Regions from separate parts of the Homo sapiens genome. Here region 1 is linked to region 2. The links come from fine-mapping of genetic effects on gene expression. A gene starts in region 2. The other region holds a variant in brackets. All regions are shown on one strand. Distances are from middle to middle.

Region 1 (8,321 bases), 98 kb after region 2:
CTGTATGACTGTGTATGGTGGAGTTGTGATTGTATCAGTGTATGACTATATGTGTGAAGTTGTGTTTAGCTGTATGGTCATTGTATGTGAGATTTGTGGAGTTGTAACGTGGTTGTGTGTGTACTTGCATGATGAGATTGTGTATAATTTGTGGATGGTGGAGTGAGGTTGTGTGTGGTTGTATGTGGTTGTGTGAGGTGTGTTTTGTGAGGGTGTGTGTGGTTGTGGTGTGTGGTTGTGTGAGGTTGTAATGTGTGGTTGTGTTTGGTTGTGTGAGGTTGTGTGTGGTAATGTGTTGTGTGTGGTTGTGTGTTGTGTGTGTGTTGTGTGAGGTTGTGGTTGTGTGTGCAAATCCCCTCTTCCTAGTCTTCTCATCTGGGGCATGGGGATCAGGGTCCCAGCGCTCAGGCTGGCCTGACCGTGGGGTAATTGGGCCCTGCAGAGCCTCACGCCGCCTGCTTGTCCTGCCACGCGGAATGGGAGTCCGTGTGTGCCCCGCTGCCCACAGCGTGTGAACGTGAGTTGGGGACCATGTGGCCCACTGCGCGCTGGGTCCCGTCCCTAAAGAGCATTCTTGGACTGTCTAAAATTCCCTTTGCAGAATTTGGAATGTTTAGGGTGTAAAATACGGAGCTTGGAGAGTCCTTAGGCAAAAGGTGTTGGTGGCCGGTTGCCCAGGCTGGGGACTCTGTCCGCGGGGCGAGAGCTTGCAGGAACGCTGGAGCATCGGAGTTCAAACCCTGTTGTCACTGTGGTTGGTTAAGGGCTTTGCGGAGACGTGGAGGCATGGTAGATGGATCGCAGGTGAGGGCGGAATGAAGGCAAAGGCGTCCCTTCTCTGATGGCAGACACATGGGTGGAGATTTGAGGTAGGAGCAGTTGTGGGGGGGTGGGGGGACAGGCGAGAGTGTGGGAGGGAGTGAGGTCGCGTGATTCCCCGTGCATCTGTGCGTGCAACTGTGGGTGATGGAGCTGGTGCTTGGGGAGGCAGGACTGGACCCTGGGTGCCGACACTGGGGCAGGGTTTAGAGCTCCCGGCCCTGCGCCCCTCGGTCCCCCAGGCTCACCTGGCTTAGCTGGGGAGCAGGGTTCTCGGGGAGCATAACAGGGAAGCTGCCCAGCAATGTGGAGGAGTCACTAGAATTCCAAGAACTCTGTGTGTGAGTGTGTGTGTGTGTGCGTGCGCGCGTGTGTGTGTGAGAGAGAGAGAGAGAGTGAGAGTGGGAGGGAGGGAGGGAGGGAGAGGCAGAGAGAGCCTTAATCTCCTCCTCTGTAAATGGGCATGCTGATATTAGCTGGACCTGTCTCCTGTATACCCTGGGATTATTGGGAGGGCTGGATCAACTCTCATAAGCCTATGAGCCCTACACCAACAGGACGCTGTTGGTATAAGCACATCTCAGCCTCCCGGTAGTCCTGTAGACCCAGCACCTGTAGTCCCAGCTACTCAGGAGGCTGAGATGGGAGGATCGCTTGAGCCCGGGAGTTGGAGGCTGCAGTGAACTGTGATCACACCACTGCACTCCAGCCTGGGTGACGGAGTGAGACCCTGTCTCAAATAAATAAGTGAATGAATGAATGAATGAATGAATGAAAGACGCATAAATAGAAGAAATTTAGAAGCCCAAGAATGAAGCTGAGGCGAACCTTGGGGTTTTATTGAAGTTGATGGTTGACGCAGCCCTGCAGGCTGTTCTAAGCCATTGATGTTTCTGTGTGTTGCTCTGAAATGGATGCAGAGGATAACATATTCTGGGTGATCCACTCATAACTGCATAAGGCTTCCTTTGTTGTTGTTGTTTTGCAGAGATGGGATCTCACTATGTTGATCAGGCTGGTCTTGAATTCCTGGGCTCAAGGAATCCTCCCACCTTGGCCTCCCAAAGTGCTGAGATTACAGGCGGGAGCCACGGCACCCAGCCCTTTGTTGTTTTGTTTACACTTTACCTTTATGAAAAAAAAAATTGGGGGGGATAATTTTAGTTGTGAAGATGGTGCAGAGAGTCCCCGCACACCCACCTTCCACCCAGTGTCCCCTTGCGTTGACACCTTTGACCACAGAACAAAGAGCAAAACTGGGCCGGGAACGGTGGCTCACGCCTGTAATCCCAGCACTTTGGGAGGCTGAGGCGGGCCGATCATGAGGTCAGGAGATCGAGACCATCCTGGCTAACACGCTGAAACCCCATCTCTACTAAAAATACAAAAAAAATTAGCCGGGCCTGGTGGCGGGCGCCTGTAATCTCGGGAGGCTGAAGCAGGAGAATGGCGTGAACCCGGGAGGCAGAGCTTGCAGTGAGCCAGGATCGCGCCACTGCACTCCAGCCTGGGCGACGGAGCGAGACTCCATCTCAAAAAAAAAAAAAAGAGCAAAACTGACGCACGACTGTGGGTGCCACACTCTGTCTTCCCACCAATATTTCTGTTCTACGTTGCAATCCAGGATCCCACATTGCATTTAGGAGCTGTATTAATTTTAAATGATACAACTCATAAGTGATTGGAAGGTTATTTTTTAATCTCTGCGTTTTCCTCTGGGTCCCTTAGTATCACTCATGTTTATCGGCGTCTTCCCTCCCACACGATTACTGACTCCTTTCTCCTCTGTCCACATTATAAAGCTAAAAGAACACAAGATACCATTGCTGCAAATAGTTTTCTCACAAACACCTCTTCCCATGAAAGCCTAACAAAAAGACCATAGACAAAATGAAAAAAAAAAGGAGACCAAGCTTATTAAATTTCCTGTAGGCTTGCTGAGTGATTTATTTCATGATGTTGGGGCGATGGAGGAGGGGAGGATTTCCTGACTAGATTCAGGCCTGAGGACAGGGGACAGGAAGAAATAAGAGAGGCCATGGCGTAGACAACAGCTGTCTGTTCTATAAACGGGCTTTGGCTGCCGTGGGACCAAAGATGCGGAATCGAATGGGATGGACGTGTCCGAAAACTGTGATCATCTTGGATTAGGTGAAGGAAAAAACAAACAAACAAACAAAAAAAACAAAAAAACTACACAGACAGGTGGGCAAGACAGCTAAAGAGCCCAGACCGAGGCTGGGGGCATGATGGTGCAGGCTTGTAGTCCCAGCTATTTGGGAGGCTGAGGCAGGAGGATCACTTGAGCACAGGAAGTTGAGACCAGCTGGGCAACATAGCAAGACCCCATCTGTACAAAAACTAAAAAAATGAGCCAGGCATGGTGGTGTGCACCCATAGCCCCAACTATTTAGGAAGCTGAGGTGGGAGGATTGCTTCAACCCAGGAGTTGGAGGCTGCAGTGAGCTGTGATAACACCACTGCACTCCAGCCTGGGTGATAGAGTGAGATTCTGTCTCAAAATAAATAAATAAATAATTTTAAAAAAGAGATGGAGAAAGAGAAGAGAAGAAATTTAGAAGCTCAAGAATGAAGCTGAGGTGAACCTTTGGGTTTTATTGAAACTGCTTGGAAAAAAAGGGAACCCCCTGAATTTCTCCTTGGAGAGGTTGAACCATGGTTTTGAGCAACTAGAAAACATTGGCCATTAAAAGCAGAGAGTGAGACCCTGTCTCTACCAAAAATTTAAAAAATTAGCCGGGTGTGGTGGTGCACACCTGTAGTCCTAGCTACTCAGGCGGCCGAGGTGGGAGGATTGCTTGAGTCCAGGAGGTTGAGGCTTCAGTGAGCTGTGATAGCATCAGTGCACTCCAGCCTGGGTGACAGAGTGAAACCCTATCTCAAAAACCAAAAAAGTAAATAAGGAACACCAGACAGAAGAGCCCTGGGACCTGCCGTCCTGTGTATTAGTTTTTGGTTACTGCATAACAAATGTCTCTCAAATTTAGCCAATTAAAACAACAGACATTTATTCTGTCACAGTTTCTGTGGGCCAAGGATTTGGGAGTGATTTATCTGGGTGGTTCTGGCCCATGGTCTCTCATGAGGTTGCAGTTAAGACATGGGCCAGGGGCTGGGTGCGGTGGCTCACGCCTGTAATCCCAGCACTTTGGGAGGCTGAGGAGGGCAGATCACAAGGTCAGGAGATCAAGACCATCCTGGCTAACACGATGAAACCCCACCTCTACTAAAAATACAAAAAATTAGCC[G/A]GGCGTGGTGGCGGGCACCTGTAGTCCCAGCTACTCAGGAGGCGGAGGCAGGAGAATGGCGTGAACCCAGGAGGTGGAGCTTGCAGTGAGCCAAGATTGCGCCACTGCACTCCAGCCTGGGCGACAGAGCGAGACTCCATTTCAAAAAAAAAAAAAAAAAAAAGACATGGGCCAGGGCTGCCTCATCTGAAAGCTCGTCTGGGCCTGGAAGAGCCACTTCAAAGCTGGTGTCCTCATGTGGCTGTTGGTGGGAGGCCTCAGTTCCTCACCACATGGGAATCACCATAGTGCTGCTCGAGCATCCTGACAACATGGCTGCTTGCTTCCCCCAGGGCTGGTGATTCAAGGGAGAGAAAGAACAAAGCCATAGTGCTTCTATGATCTAACCTCAGAAGCCTAGATCCATTGCTTCTGGTATATTCTATTCATTACAAGTGAGTCAATAAGTCCAACACACACTCGGAGAGGGAAATTAGGCTCTGCTAGGTGAGGATAGCAAATAATTTTTGGAGATATTTAAAAACCACCACATCTATAACCTTGGGCAAGTTACCTAACTCTTCGGTGCCTCCAATTCATCTTTGGTCAGAATAGAACCAGTCTCATAGGAGAAATGTGGCAATAAATGAGATGATGACTGTAAATATTGTTTAATACAACACCTGTCACATAGAAAATGCTTATGTACTTTTTTTTTTCAAGATGGAGTCTTGCTCCATTGCCCAGGCTGGAGTGCAGTGGTGGAAACTTGGCTCCCTGCAACCTCTGCCTCCTGGGTTCAAGTGATTCTCCTGCCTCAGCCTCCCAAGTAGCTGGGATTACAGGTGTGCACCACCATGACTGGCTAATTTTTTTTTTTTTTTTTTTTGAGAGGGAGTCTTGCTCCGTCGCCCAGGCTAGAATTCAGTGGCACGATCTCAGCTCACTGCAAGTTCTGCCTCCCGGGTTGACACCATTCTCCTGCCTCAGCCTCCCAAGTAGCTGGGACTACAGTCACCTGCCACCATGCCTGGCTAATTTTTTGTATTTTTAGTAGAGATGGGGTTTCACTGTGTTAGCCAGGCTGGTCTTGAACTCTTGACCTCAGGTGATCCACCCACCTTGGCCTCCCAAAGTGCTGGGATTACAGGCATGAGCCACTGCACCCAGCCCATGACTGGCTAATTTTTGTATTTTTAGTAGAGACAGGGTTTTACCATGTTGGCCAGGCTGGTCTCGAACTCTGGATCTCAAGTGATCCACCTGCCTCAGCTTCCCAAAATGTTGGGATTATAGGCATGAGCCACCATGCCTGGCTTTATCCACTTACTTTTATTAAAGGTATATTTTTCAGTGTTACAGCTCTTGAGGAATGATGTGCCAGCTATAGTTATCAAATTGTAACTCTCTGGATTTGTGGGGCCGGAGAGGCAGAGGGAAATAACTTGCTCTTTCAGGAGGCATTAGGCTACGGAACGGAGAGACTGCACATGGCGGCTGCGTTTTTCCTGGCTCCCCTTTTCCAATGGTTAAGGGAAGACAAATGGGAATTAAGCAGTTCCAGGCTCTGCATGTGGCAGAAACCATCCTACCATCTACTCCCATGGGTGCAGTTTGCAAAATTTGAGAGACCAAAAAAAAAAAAAAAGCAGAGAATGTGAAGGGCACATTAGGGTATAGCTGAGGATGTCAGGCAGGAGACACAGCCTGTGCCTTTGAAGGCACTGAGGCTGGACCATGCTGTGCATGTTTGGGGATCGGCGAGGAGGCCAGTGAAGCTGGGGCTGAAGGAGGGAGGGGTTGGAGATGAGGACAGTTAGACCCGGTCGCTGTGGGGAGGTTTGGGCAGAGGTGGGATGTCACCTGACGCGGGTCTTAGCTGTCTCCCTGAGGCTTCCCGTTGAGAATAGACCCAGGGAGGGGAAGATGGAAGTGGCATTTTGTGAGCCTGGGCGATGCCCTGCTTAGACCAGGCTAGACATGGCGTAGGGGCCCAATTCTAGAGCTACCCTGCAGACGGTCTGACAACGTTTTTGGATGGACTGGGTTTGGGATGTGCCAGGGCATCAAGGATAAACCCAGTTTTTTTTTTTTTTTTTTTTTTTTTTTAAAGACAGAGTCTCACTCTGTCGCCCAGGCTGGAGCACAGTGGCGCAATCTCAGCTCACTGCAACCTCCGCCTCCTGGGCTCAAGCAATTCTCCTGCCTCAGCCTCCTGAGTAGCTGGGATTACAGGTGTACGCCACCATGCCCGGCTAATTCTTTTTTTTTTTTTTGAGACAGAGTTTTGCTCTCATTGTCCAGGCTGTAGTGCAAAGGTGTGATCTCGGCTCACTGTAACCTCCACCTCCCGGGTTCAAGTGATTCTCCTGCCTCAGCCTCCAGAGTAACTGGGATTACAGGCGCCCACCACCACACCCAGCTAATTTTGTATTTTTAGTACAGATGGGGTTTCACCATGTTGGCCATGCTGGTCTCAAACTCCTGACTTCAGGTGATCCACCCATCTCCCAAAGTGATGGGATTACAGGCGTGAGCCACTGTGCCCGGCCAAACCCAGGTTTTAAAAAAAATTTTTTTGTACCTGGGTGAGTACGAAAGTGGAGCTGCTGTCTGAGCTGAGAAGACTGTGGGAGGAGCAGGCATTTTTGTGAAGAGGAGACTGAGGAGGGATATGAGAGCTCAGTTTGGTCAGTGTCAAATTTAAGAAGCCTGTTAATGATTGTATTAGCTTTTGTTTGTTTAAGACAGGGTCTTGCTCTGTCACCCTCACCCAGGCTGCAGTGTAGTGGCTTGATCGCAGCTCACTGCAGCCTCAACCTCCTGGGCTCAAGTGATCTTCCTGCCTCAGCCTCCCAAGTAGCTGGGACTACAGGTGTGTGCTACCACCCTGGCTAATTTGTAATTTTTTTTTTTTTTTTTTTTTTTTAGAGATGGGATCTCATTATGTTGCCTACACTGATCTCAAAGTCCTGGGCTCAAGCGATCCTCCTGCCACAGCCTCCAAAAGTGCTGGGATTACAGACCTGAGCCACTGCACCTGGCCTAGTTTTCTGCAAATTACCACAAATGTAGCAACTTGAAACACCTCCTGTTTACTGTCTCATGGTTTTGTGGTTTCTGTGGGTTGGGTGGCTGGGCATGGTTTGGCTGGATCCTCTGCTCAGGGTCTGACAAGACTGCAGTCAGAGTGTTGGCTGGGCTGTGGTCTCATCAGAAACTCAACTGGGGATGCCCAAATGCAGTGGCTCATGCCTGTAATCCCAGCACTTTGGGAGGCCAAGGCTGGCAGGTCACTTGAGGTCAGGAGTTCAAGACCAGCCTGGGCAATATAGCGAAACCCCTTCTCTACTGAAAATACAAAAATTAGCCGGGCATGATGGCGGGCACCAGTGTAATCCCAGCTACTTGGGAGGCTGAGGCAGGAAATCACGTGAACCCAGGAGGCAGAGATTGCATTGAGCTGATATTGTGCCACTGCACTCTAGCCTGGGTGACAAGAGACTTCATTTCAAAAAAATATATACACATCCTGGCTAACACGGTGAAACCCTGTCTCTACTAAAAATAACAAAAAAATTAGCCAGGCACAGTGGCGGGAGCCTGTAGTCCCAGATACTCAGGAGGCTGAGGCAGGAGAATGGTGTGAACCTGGGAGGTGGAGCTTGCAGTGAGCCAAGATCACGCCACTGCACTCCAGCCTGGGTGATAGAGTGAGACTCTGTCTCAAAAAAAAAAAAAAAAAAAAAGTGGGTAGGTTGGCCAGATGTCCCAGGTTGCAGGCTACACCATGCCTGGCTCATTATTTTTATTTTTTGTGGAGATGGGGGTCTCGCTATGTTCCTCAGGCTGGTCTCAACCCCTGGCCTCAAGTGATCCTCCCTCCTTGGCCTCCCAAGGTGCTGGGATTACAGGCGTGAGCCACCACGCCCAGCCAGAAACTTGGGTTTAAAATGGACTTTGCATTATAATGAGATGGGTAATTCACCCAGGATGAATCCAGCCTTCAGCTTTTGCTTTCTTTTGCTTTTGCTTTCTCTCTCTGTCTCTCTTTATATATATATTGCCCAGACTGGACAACATTGCAAGACCTCGTCTCTACAAAAACTTAAAAAAAAAATTAACCCAGCGTGGTGGCATGCATTTGTAGTCCCATCTACTCGGGAGGCTGAGGCAGGAGGATCCCTTGAGCCCAAGAGTTCAAGGCTGCAGTGAGCCGAGATCATAACACTGTACTTCAGCCTGGGTGACAGA
Region 2 (8,321 bases):
ACGGGGTTTCACCGTGTTAGCCAGGATGGTCTCGATCTCCTGACCTCGTGATCCGCCTGCCTTGGCCTCTCAAAGTGCTGGGATTACAGGCGTGAGCCACCACGCTTGGCCATTTTCCTGCTTGCTTTCATTTTTTTTTGAGACAGTGTCTTGCTCTGTCCCCCAGGCTGGAGTGCAGTGGTGTGATCACAGCTCACTGCAGCCTTGACCTCCTGGGCTCAAGTGATCCTCTTGGTTCAGCCTCCCAAGTAGCTGGGATCACAGATGCCCACCCAATCCCAGCTAATTAAAATTTTTTTAATTTTTTAAAATTTCTAGAAGTTTTTAAAATTCTCAACAAAGTGAGAACCTAGAGATAGGGTCTTGCTATGTTGGCCAGGCTGGTCTGCAACTCCTGGGCTCAAGCGATCTTCTTGCTTCAGCCTCCCAAAGTGCTGGGATTACAGGCGTGAGCCACTGTGCGCGGCCCCAATCCTTCTTTATTTTTACCTGTTTACATTTTATTTTATTTAACTCATTATTATAATTCTTTTAGAGACAAGGTCTCCCTCTGTCACCCAGGCTGCAGTGCAGTTGAGAGACCATAGTTCACTGCAGCCTTGACCTTCCTGGCTCAGGGGATCCTCCTGCCTCAGCCGCTGGAGTAGCTGGAACTACAGGTGTGCACCACCATGTCCCTAATTTTTAAATTTGCTGCAGAGATGGGGTCTGGCTATGTAGCCCTGGCTGGTCTTGAACTCCTGAGCTCAAGCGATCCTCTTGCCTCTGCCTCCCAAAGTGCACACCGGGCCCACATACCCTCTTTTAAATCAGAGTCAGCCGGGTGCGGTGGCTCACGCCTGTAATCCCAGCACTTTGGAAGGGTGAGATGGGTGGATCACCTGAGTTCAGGAGTTCGAGACCAGCCTGACCAATATGGTGAAATCCCGTCTCTACTAAAAATACCAAAATTAACTGGGCCTGGTGGCGTGAGCCTGTAATTCCCAACTACTTGGGAGGCCGAGGCAGGAGAATCACTTGAACCTGGGAAGGGGAGGTTGCAGTGAGCCGCCGAGATCATGACCCTGAACTCCAGCCTGGTGACAAAGTGAGACTCTGTCTCAAAAACCAAACAGCCAGGTGCGGTGGCACACCTGTAATCCCAGCACTTTGGGAGGCACGTAGATCATGAAGTCAGGAGTTTGAGACCGTCCTGGCCAATATGGTGAAACCCTGTCTCCACTAAACACAAAAATTAGCCGGGAATGGTGGTGCACGCCTGTAGTCCCAGCTTCTCGGGAGGCTGAGGCAGGAGAATCGCTTGAACCCTGTAGGTGGAGGTTGCAGTGAGCCAAGGTTACGCCACTGCACTCCAGCCTGGGCTACAGGTGAGACTCTGTCTCAAAAAAAAAAAAAAAAAATCAGTCCATCAATCAATCAATCAGAGTCATACTCTCTGCGTCCTCTGCCAGCAGCCGTATCCCCTCAACCTTGATTTCAGAAGAAAACCCAGGCATGGGCCCTCTATCCTTGACCACCCCACATCCTCTGCTGTCCCTTTCAGACAGTTCAAGCCTCACCACCTCCAGAGAAAGATATGCCTCTTTCTCTCCCTGCTGTCCGGGAGGCCCCTCACCAGTCACAGACTCCCCAGCTCCCAGCAAAGCACCTCCCACCCTGGGGAGTTTCTGGGGAACCCGGCCAGGTGGGCCAGCAGGGCGCAGTTGCTGATCCTAGCGCTCATCCCACGTGGCCTGGCCAGTGTGGGGGTGGCCCTTCTAGAAGCCTCACAGCATTGGCAGGCGGCCATCAGAGGCAGGCAGGAGGAGGAAGTGAGAGCTGCTGCAGTCAGGATGGAGGGATGGGGCTCCCTGGTCGTGGCTGTTCTGGAAATCGCACCGGTGACCTGTTCATTTCGAGCAGGCTCTTGCCTCTGTTCCCAGAGGAGGTCCTCAACTTAGGGGCGTCATTCTGCCCCCAAGGGACATTGGATGATGTTTGGGACATTTCTGGTTGTCATGACTTGGAGTGCTCCTGGCATGGAGTGGGTGGAGGCCAGGGACGCTGCTCAGTACCCTGCAGTGCCCAGGACGCTGCAGTCCAGCCTGGCAACAGAGCGAGACTCCGTCTCAAAAAACAAAAAAACAAAAAAAAAAGCAATCCACACCCTGAGTGGGGAAGGAGAGAGGAGAAGCATCCCAGGAGCTGGGGCCCTCCTGGTTCATACCATTTGCCCAGGATGCCCCACCCCAGAGAACAATCCAAGCCCAATGTCCACGGGTCCGAGGGAGGAGACCCTGAGTTAATTATTTGAAACAGAGTCTGTTCTCTGCTCACACCAGACACCAGAATAAACTCCTTTTTTTTGAGATGGAGTCTCGCTCTGTAGCCCAGGCTGGAGTGTAGTGGTGCAATCTTGGCTCACTGCAACCTCCACCTCCCGGGTGCCAGTTCAAGCAATTCTCCTGCCTCAGCCCCCTGAGTAGCTGGGATTACAGGCACGCGCCACCATGCCCAGCTAATTTTTGTATTTTTAGTAGAGACGGGGTTTCACCATGTTGGCCAGACTGGTCTTGCACTCCTGACCTCGTGATCCACCCGCCTCGGCCTCCCAAAGTGCTGGGATTACAGGCGTGAGCCACCGTGCCCAGCCTCAGGATAAACTCCTAATGGGGCAAACGGTATAAACCAGGAGGCCCCCAGCTCCTGGGATGCTTCTCCTCTCTCCTTCCCCACTCAGGGTGTGGATTGCTTTTTTTTTGTTTTTTTTGTGACAGAGTCTCGCTCTGTCACCAGGCTGGAGTGCAGCGGCGCCATCTCAGCTCACTGCAACCTCTGCCTCAAGGTGTGGATTTCAACGTGCGCAGTCTCCTGGGACCTCAGCAGGGCAGAGGATCATGGGATGCAGAGTCTCTTGGGGGGGTCCGTGGAATCCCCTAACTCGGGAGTCTCACCCAGGGTGATTCTGCCCCCGCCAAGGGACACTGGGTGATGTCTGCGGATACTTGTGGTTGTCACAACTGGGGGTGCTCAAGGCATGGAGTGGGTGGAGGCCAGGGACGCTGCTCAGCGCCCTGCAGTGCCCAGGGCGGCCCCAAATGTCAACCGCAGGAGTTAATTTCTGCCTCAACACCTGAATAGCGAATGCTCGTAGCAGAGATGCAACAACAGCCTTCTGGTGCAGTACGAAATCTCGAAAGACAGGCAGGCGCGGTGGCTCACGCCTGTTAATCCCCAAACTTTGGGAGGTCGAGGCAGGCGGATCACCTGAGGTCAGGAGTTCCAGACCAGCCTTGCCAACATGGTGAAACCCCATCTCTACTAAAAATACAAAAATTAGCCGGGCGTGGTGGCGGGCACCTGTAATCCCAGCTCCTCAGGAGGCTGAAGCAGGAGAATCGCTTGAACCTGGGAGGCGGAGGTTGCAGCGAGCCGAGATTGCGCCACTGCACTCCAGCCTGGGTGACAGCCAGGCCCGGTCGCAAACAAAACAAAATTAAAACCATGAAAGGAATCAGGATTTGCCAGGAGTAGCATTTTTGCTTGGTAAGAACAAAATTTTGTTTATACATGAAATAAAAAATATTTTATTAAACCTCACTGCAAAGTGGCAACTTTTTGCTAAATTCATAATTTAGTCTACACACAAGCTATGTACCCGTATGTGACTGCCAAGAGTTATATCTTTGCTTATTAAAAGCAAAGTGCAGTTCATACCTGAGATTTTTTTTCTGGATTTAACCAGGAGGGGAAATATTTTTGCTAGGTAAGTCCACATTTTACCTCACAGGCGAAACAGTTTACCGAACTTGACCACCAAAGAAATCGTTTTTTCCTTGGGAGATCCACATTTTAGTTCATACATGAGATGTGTTTCTGAATTTTAACTGCCAGGAGTAGTGTTTTTCCTTAGGGTAAGTTTCAGTTTCCACAGGAAAAATCTGAATTTATCTGCAAGGAGTAAAATTTTTGCTTAAGTCCAAATTGTACACGAAATATTTTACTAAATTTGAATATCTTTAACATTGGAAGTTCTTTTTTTTTAAACACTGGAAGCATTTTAAGAACTGCAAGACCAAATTTAAAAAAATAAAACCAGTAATATCATCGATGATTACCAGGTGTTACTGGAAATAATTCTGGCGCGGTTGGACAACCCCCCAAGCACCCGGGGGCCTACCCAGGGGAGGGGTCCCGCTGCGTGAAGGGACCCTAGGGAGGGCGACGTGGACCACGACAGACAAACGGGCACTCGAAGACCCCCGAAAATCGGCCCCAGCGAGCCGCCCCCGCCCCCAAGGCACGATTGTGGGGGCGGGGACGGCTCGGGGCGCGCGCAGCGCGTACCCGGCGCCACGGCAGCCCCGCCCCCAGAAGGACGCGCGCAGGAGGGGGCGTGGCCCGAGGCTCACCAACCAATCTCCAGAGAGCCTCTTCCTTTCCCTTTCCCTTTCACCAATCAGGCGCTGGGAGGGGCGGGCGCGACTTTTTTTCCCGGCGGCCCCGCGGCTCTGCCCCTCGTGCGGTCGCGTTCCCGGCGGCGCGGGGGGCGTGGCCTGGGCGCAGCATCTATAAAGGCGGGCGGCGGCAGAGGCGCCATTTTGCGAACGGCGAGCAGCGGCGGCGGCGCGGAGAGACGCAGCGGAGGTTTTCCTGGTTTCGGACCCCAGCGGCCGGATGGTGAAATCCTCCCTGCAGCGGATCCTCAATAGCCACTGCTTCGCCAGAGAGAAGGAAGGGGATAAACCCAGCGCCACCATCCACGCCAGCCGCACCATGCCGCTCCTAAGCCTGCACAGCCGCGGCGGCAGCAGCAGTGAGAGGTAAGTGCCCCGCCCCCGTCCGAAGCTTCCAGAAGCGCCGGCCGCGCAGGCCTGCGGGGGGCCGTCCTCGGGGCGCCAGATAGGTCCCCGGCGCGCGAGATCCGCCCCTTTGTCAAGGCCAGAATCGCGCCGGGGACGAGGTAGGCGCAGGGCGGGCCTGGAGGTCCCCCCCGGCCTTAGCAGTGCTCTCGGGGGAGTCGGGTTTGGGGGGCAAGGGTGCGGAGTTGGATTTGGGGGGCACCGTCCGGGGCGCCTGATTTGCGGGAGGGGCATGGGTCGGAGGTCGGATTTGGGCGCAGGACGGGGAGTCGGGGGAGGCGTGTGTCTTTTGCGGGGTTCGCGGGATGGGACTCGGCTTCGGAGGAGGGGAGAGGCTTCTGGTCGAGGGTTGGATTTGCGGGGCGCAGACTGGGAATTCGGTTTGGAGGAAGGGTGTGCGGTCGGGTCGGATTTGGGAGGCGCAGGATGGGGCAATCTGGTTGGGGGCGGGGTCGGCCTTGGGGGGCTGGTCCGCGGACAGGCAGGGCCCGCGGGGCTGGTGAATCTGCACTTTTCGGTCCCGGCCGTCGAGCGTGCGCTGCGGGAGCGGGGAGCGCTTTGCGGTGGACGAGCTCCCGCGGGTCCCTGTTGCCTCGATGTGGCCCCTGCACGCGACGGACCTCGTGGGCCCCGTTTTTCGCCCCTGAGCGAGTCGGTCTGGATGGCCCGGGACGCGCCGGGCGAGGCCGCGCACGTAGACGGCACCCAGGGCTTCTCCGCGGGGGCCGCCGGGGAGCTGGGGGTGGCGCACTCCGACAGCCCGGCAGCGCCCTGGGAAGACCCCCGCCGCTTCCCGGGAAGACGCGTCCCGCTTCCGGGGGCGCGGGTGCCAGCTGCGGTTGTGGGGGAGCCCGCGGGGTCTCGGTCGAGCTTTCCCGACTGCGTCCCCCGAGGTGGGCGTCGCTCAGCCCCGGATCGGGAGGTTGGGCCGCGGTGCTGGCGGTGCCGCGGTTTGGGGGCCGTGCAAAATGGAGGCAACTTTGGGGCCTGTTTACCCTGCGCAGCAAATGGCTGCTGGCGCTGCCGGCTGCGCGATTGTGAAAATCTCCCCCGGGGCGCGAGGCCGCGTCTGCCTGGATGACGCAACCGGGAGGGCCCGGGCCTGGAGCGGGGGCGGGGGGGCGGGCGGCCGGGAGCCGGAGCGGGGCGCGTCCTCCATGAGGTCAGGCTAGGCCCGCCCGGTCTTCGCGGGGACAAGCAAGAGTCCCAGATTTTGGCCGTAGTGCAGGGTGGAAAGGGGAAGCCGCGACAGAACTGAAAAGGGGAAGCGCTGGCTGTCTTGGTGGCCGGGGGGTGAGGCTCTGCCCCGGCGGGGCTGCGTGAGGGGAAGGGGCCCCCCGCCCTGGGAAGGTTGGGCTGTCCTGGGCGGCGCCGCCCGAGGAGTCGGGGCTCAGTGACTGCTGCCCTTGTAGGTGCTTGGGGCAGGCGTTGGAGCTGCCTTCGGGAAGCCTCGGGGGTGTGGGACCGGGTGGGCCCCTGCCTGGGCGGGGCGGGGTCTTTTGGCCGAGGCAGGGGTGGGGATGTGCTGAAGGCCGCCCGGACGCCCTGGAGGGGTCTCCGCCCGGAGCCTGGCGCTGCCTCGTGACCTGCATCATCTTCAGTTCCAGGGTCTCCCTCCACTGCTGTAGTAACCCGGGTCCGGGGCCTCGGTGGTGCTCCTGATGCCCCTCACCCACCCCTGAAGATCCCAGGTGGGCGAGGGAATAGTCAGAGGGATCACAATCTTTCAGCTAACTTATTCTACTCCGTGAGTATGGGGCCGGGCCTGCTGGGGCTGCTCTGGGGCCACAGGTACTTTCTTGTGCACCTTGCTGCCCGTACCTGTGATTGAATGTAATCGTGGGAACCCTGAGTTTCATCAGAGCCGGCGCACAGTCTCCTGCAGCCCAGGCGTTGCCTGAGCTCAACACGGCCTAGGCCCAAGCTTTAGCGCTGCCGGGTTCTTGGAGTCCTGTGGGGTGAGTCAGGGTTCTGAATTGGGCTGCACCCCCTGGACAGGATGATCGGCTGAATGTAACAGAGGAACTAACGTCCAACGACAAGACGAGGATTCTCAACGTCCAGTCCAGGCTCACAGACGCCAAACGCATTAACTGGCGAACAGTGCTGAGTGGCGGCAGCCTCTACATCGAGATCCCGGGCGGCGCGCTGCCCGAGGGGAGCAAGGACAGGTGAGGGGCAAGGACAGGCAGGGAGTGCTCACCCAGGGGAGCAGGGACCAGGTGAGGGGCAAGGACAGGCGGGGAGTGCTCACCCAGGGGAGCAGGGACCAGGTGCGGGTTGCTGCCCAAGGGGTGCAGGGACAGATGAGGGAGGGCACTGCCTTCAGGCAGCACATATGGGGGCCACCATCGCTTTGTTGGTGGGGACAGGGTCCCCCCTTTTTTTTTTTTTTGAGATGGAGTCTTGCTTTTGTTGCCCAGGCTGGAGTGCAGTGGCATGATCTTGGCTCACTGCAACCTCTGCCTTCCGGGTTCAAGCGATTCTCCTGCCTCAGCCTCCCGAGTAGCTGGGCTTACAGGCGCCCGCCACCGATGCCCAGCTAATTTTTGTGTTTTTAGTAGAGACGAGGTTTCGCTATGTTGGCCAGGCTGGTCTTGAACTCCTGACCTCGTGATCCGCCCACCTCGGCCTCCCAAAGTGCTGGGATTACAGGCGTGAGCTACCGCTCCCGGCCTGGGGTCCCTTTTTAAAAAGTGCACTCCAAATTCGTACCCTGGGATTCTACCCTCCAAGGGATGCCAGGCAGTGTCAGAGCTTTTCTGTCATGGGGCATGCACGTGGGTGGGTGCAGCGGTGCTGCTCAACACTGTGGTGTCAGGACGGCCCCACCCAGAGGACGATCTGGGCCCCAGGGGGACCCTGGAGTAGAGCGGGCCTCAGGGTAGCTGCTAAGGCCCAGGAGGTAGGCAGGTGGGTCGGGCCAGCCGAGACGCTGACACTCGCTGCAGCTTTGCAGTTCTCCTGGAGTTCGCTGAGGAGCAGCTGCGAGCCGACCATGTCTTCATTTGCTTCCACAAGAACCGCGAGGACAGAGGTAGGTGACCCGTATCGCCTGCAGTAGGGTGCGTGGGGGTGCCTGCGCCGCCCCTTCATTCTCAGCCCGCAGGCACGGTCTCCCTGCGGGGGTGGGGGGTGCGGGCGGGGGGTTCTGGTCGGCAGGGGTTCTGACGGCTTCTCCCCCGCAGCCGCCTTGCTCCGAACCTTCAGCTTTTTGGGCTTTGAGATTGTGAGACCGGGGCATCCCCTTGTCCCCAAGAGACCCGACGCTTGCTTCATGGCCTACACGTTCGAGAGAGAGTCTTCGGGAGAGGAGGAGGAGTAGGGCCGCCTCGGGGCTGGGCATCCGGCCCCTGGGGCCACCCCTTGTCAGCCGGGTGGGTAGGAACCGTAGACTCGCTCATCTCGCCTGGGTTTGTCCGCATGTTGTAATCGTGCAAATAAACGCTCACTCCGAATTAGCGGTGTATTTCTTGAAGT

Evidence for each region. PIP is the estimated chance that this variant, and not a neighbour inherited with it, causes the effect.
Region 1: its variant is fine-mapped to the expression of OAZ1 in whole blood (TOPMed, PIP 0.97).

What each region holds. Positions count from the first base shown.
Region 1 is chr19:2,362,626-2,370,946 of GRCh38, forward strand. All of the region lies in intron 1 of TMPRSS9 (transmembrane serine protease 9), which reads left to right. Among named protein-coding and RNA genes, the nearest start is that of TMPRSS9, 6.5 kb to the left of the region's middle. The variant G/A (reference allele first, on the strand shown) is at 4,089.
Region 2 is chr19:2,264,943-2,273,263 of GRCh38, forward strand. OAZ1 (ornithine decarboxylase antizyme 1) reads left to right here and starts at 4,544. Exons shown (of 5, transcript NM_004152.3): 1 at 4,544-4,802; 2 at 6,443-6,588; 3 at 6,840-7,012; 4 at 7,793-7,878; 5 at 8,030-8,321. The coding sequence starts at 4,657. The coding sequence ends at 8,166. It overlaps LOC105372240 (a long non-coding RNA gene), which reads right to left and starts at 4,311. Exons shown (of 2, transcript XR_936242.3): 1 at 4,160-4,311; 2 at 3,551-3,930. RefSeq lists enhancers at 1,578-1,747, 4,243-4,857, 7,595-7,654, 7,665-7,724 and silencers at 4,111-4,600, 5,566-5,625, 5,836-6,035, 6,046-6,385, 7,925-8,074.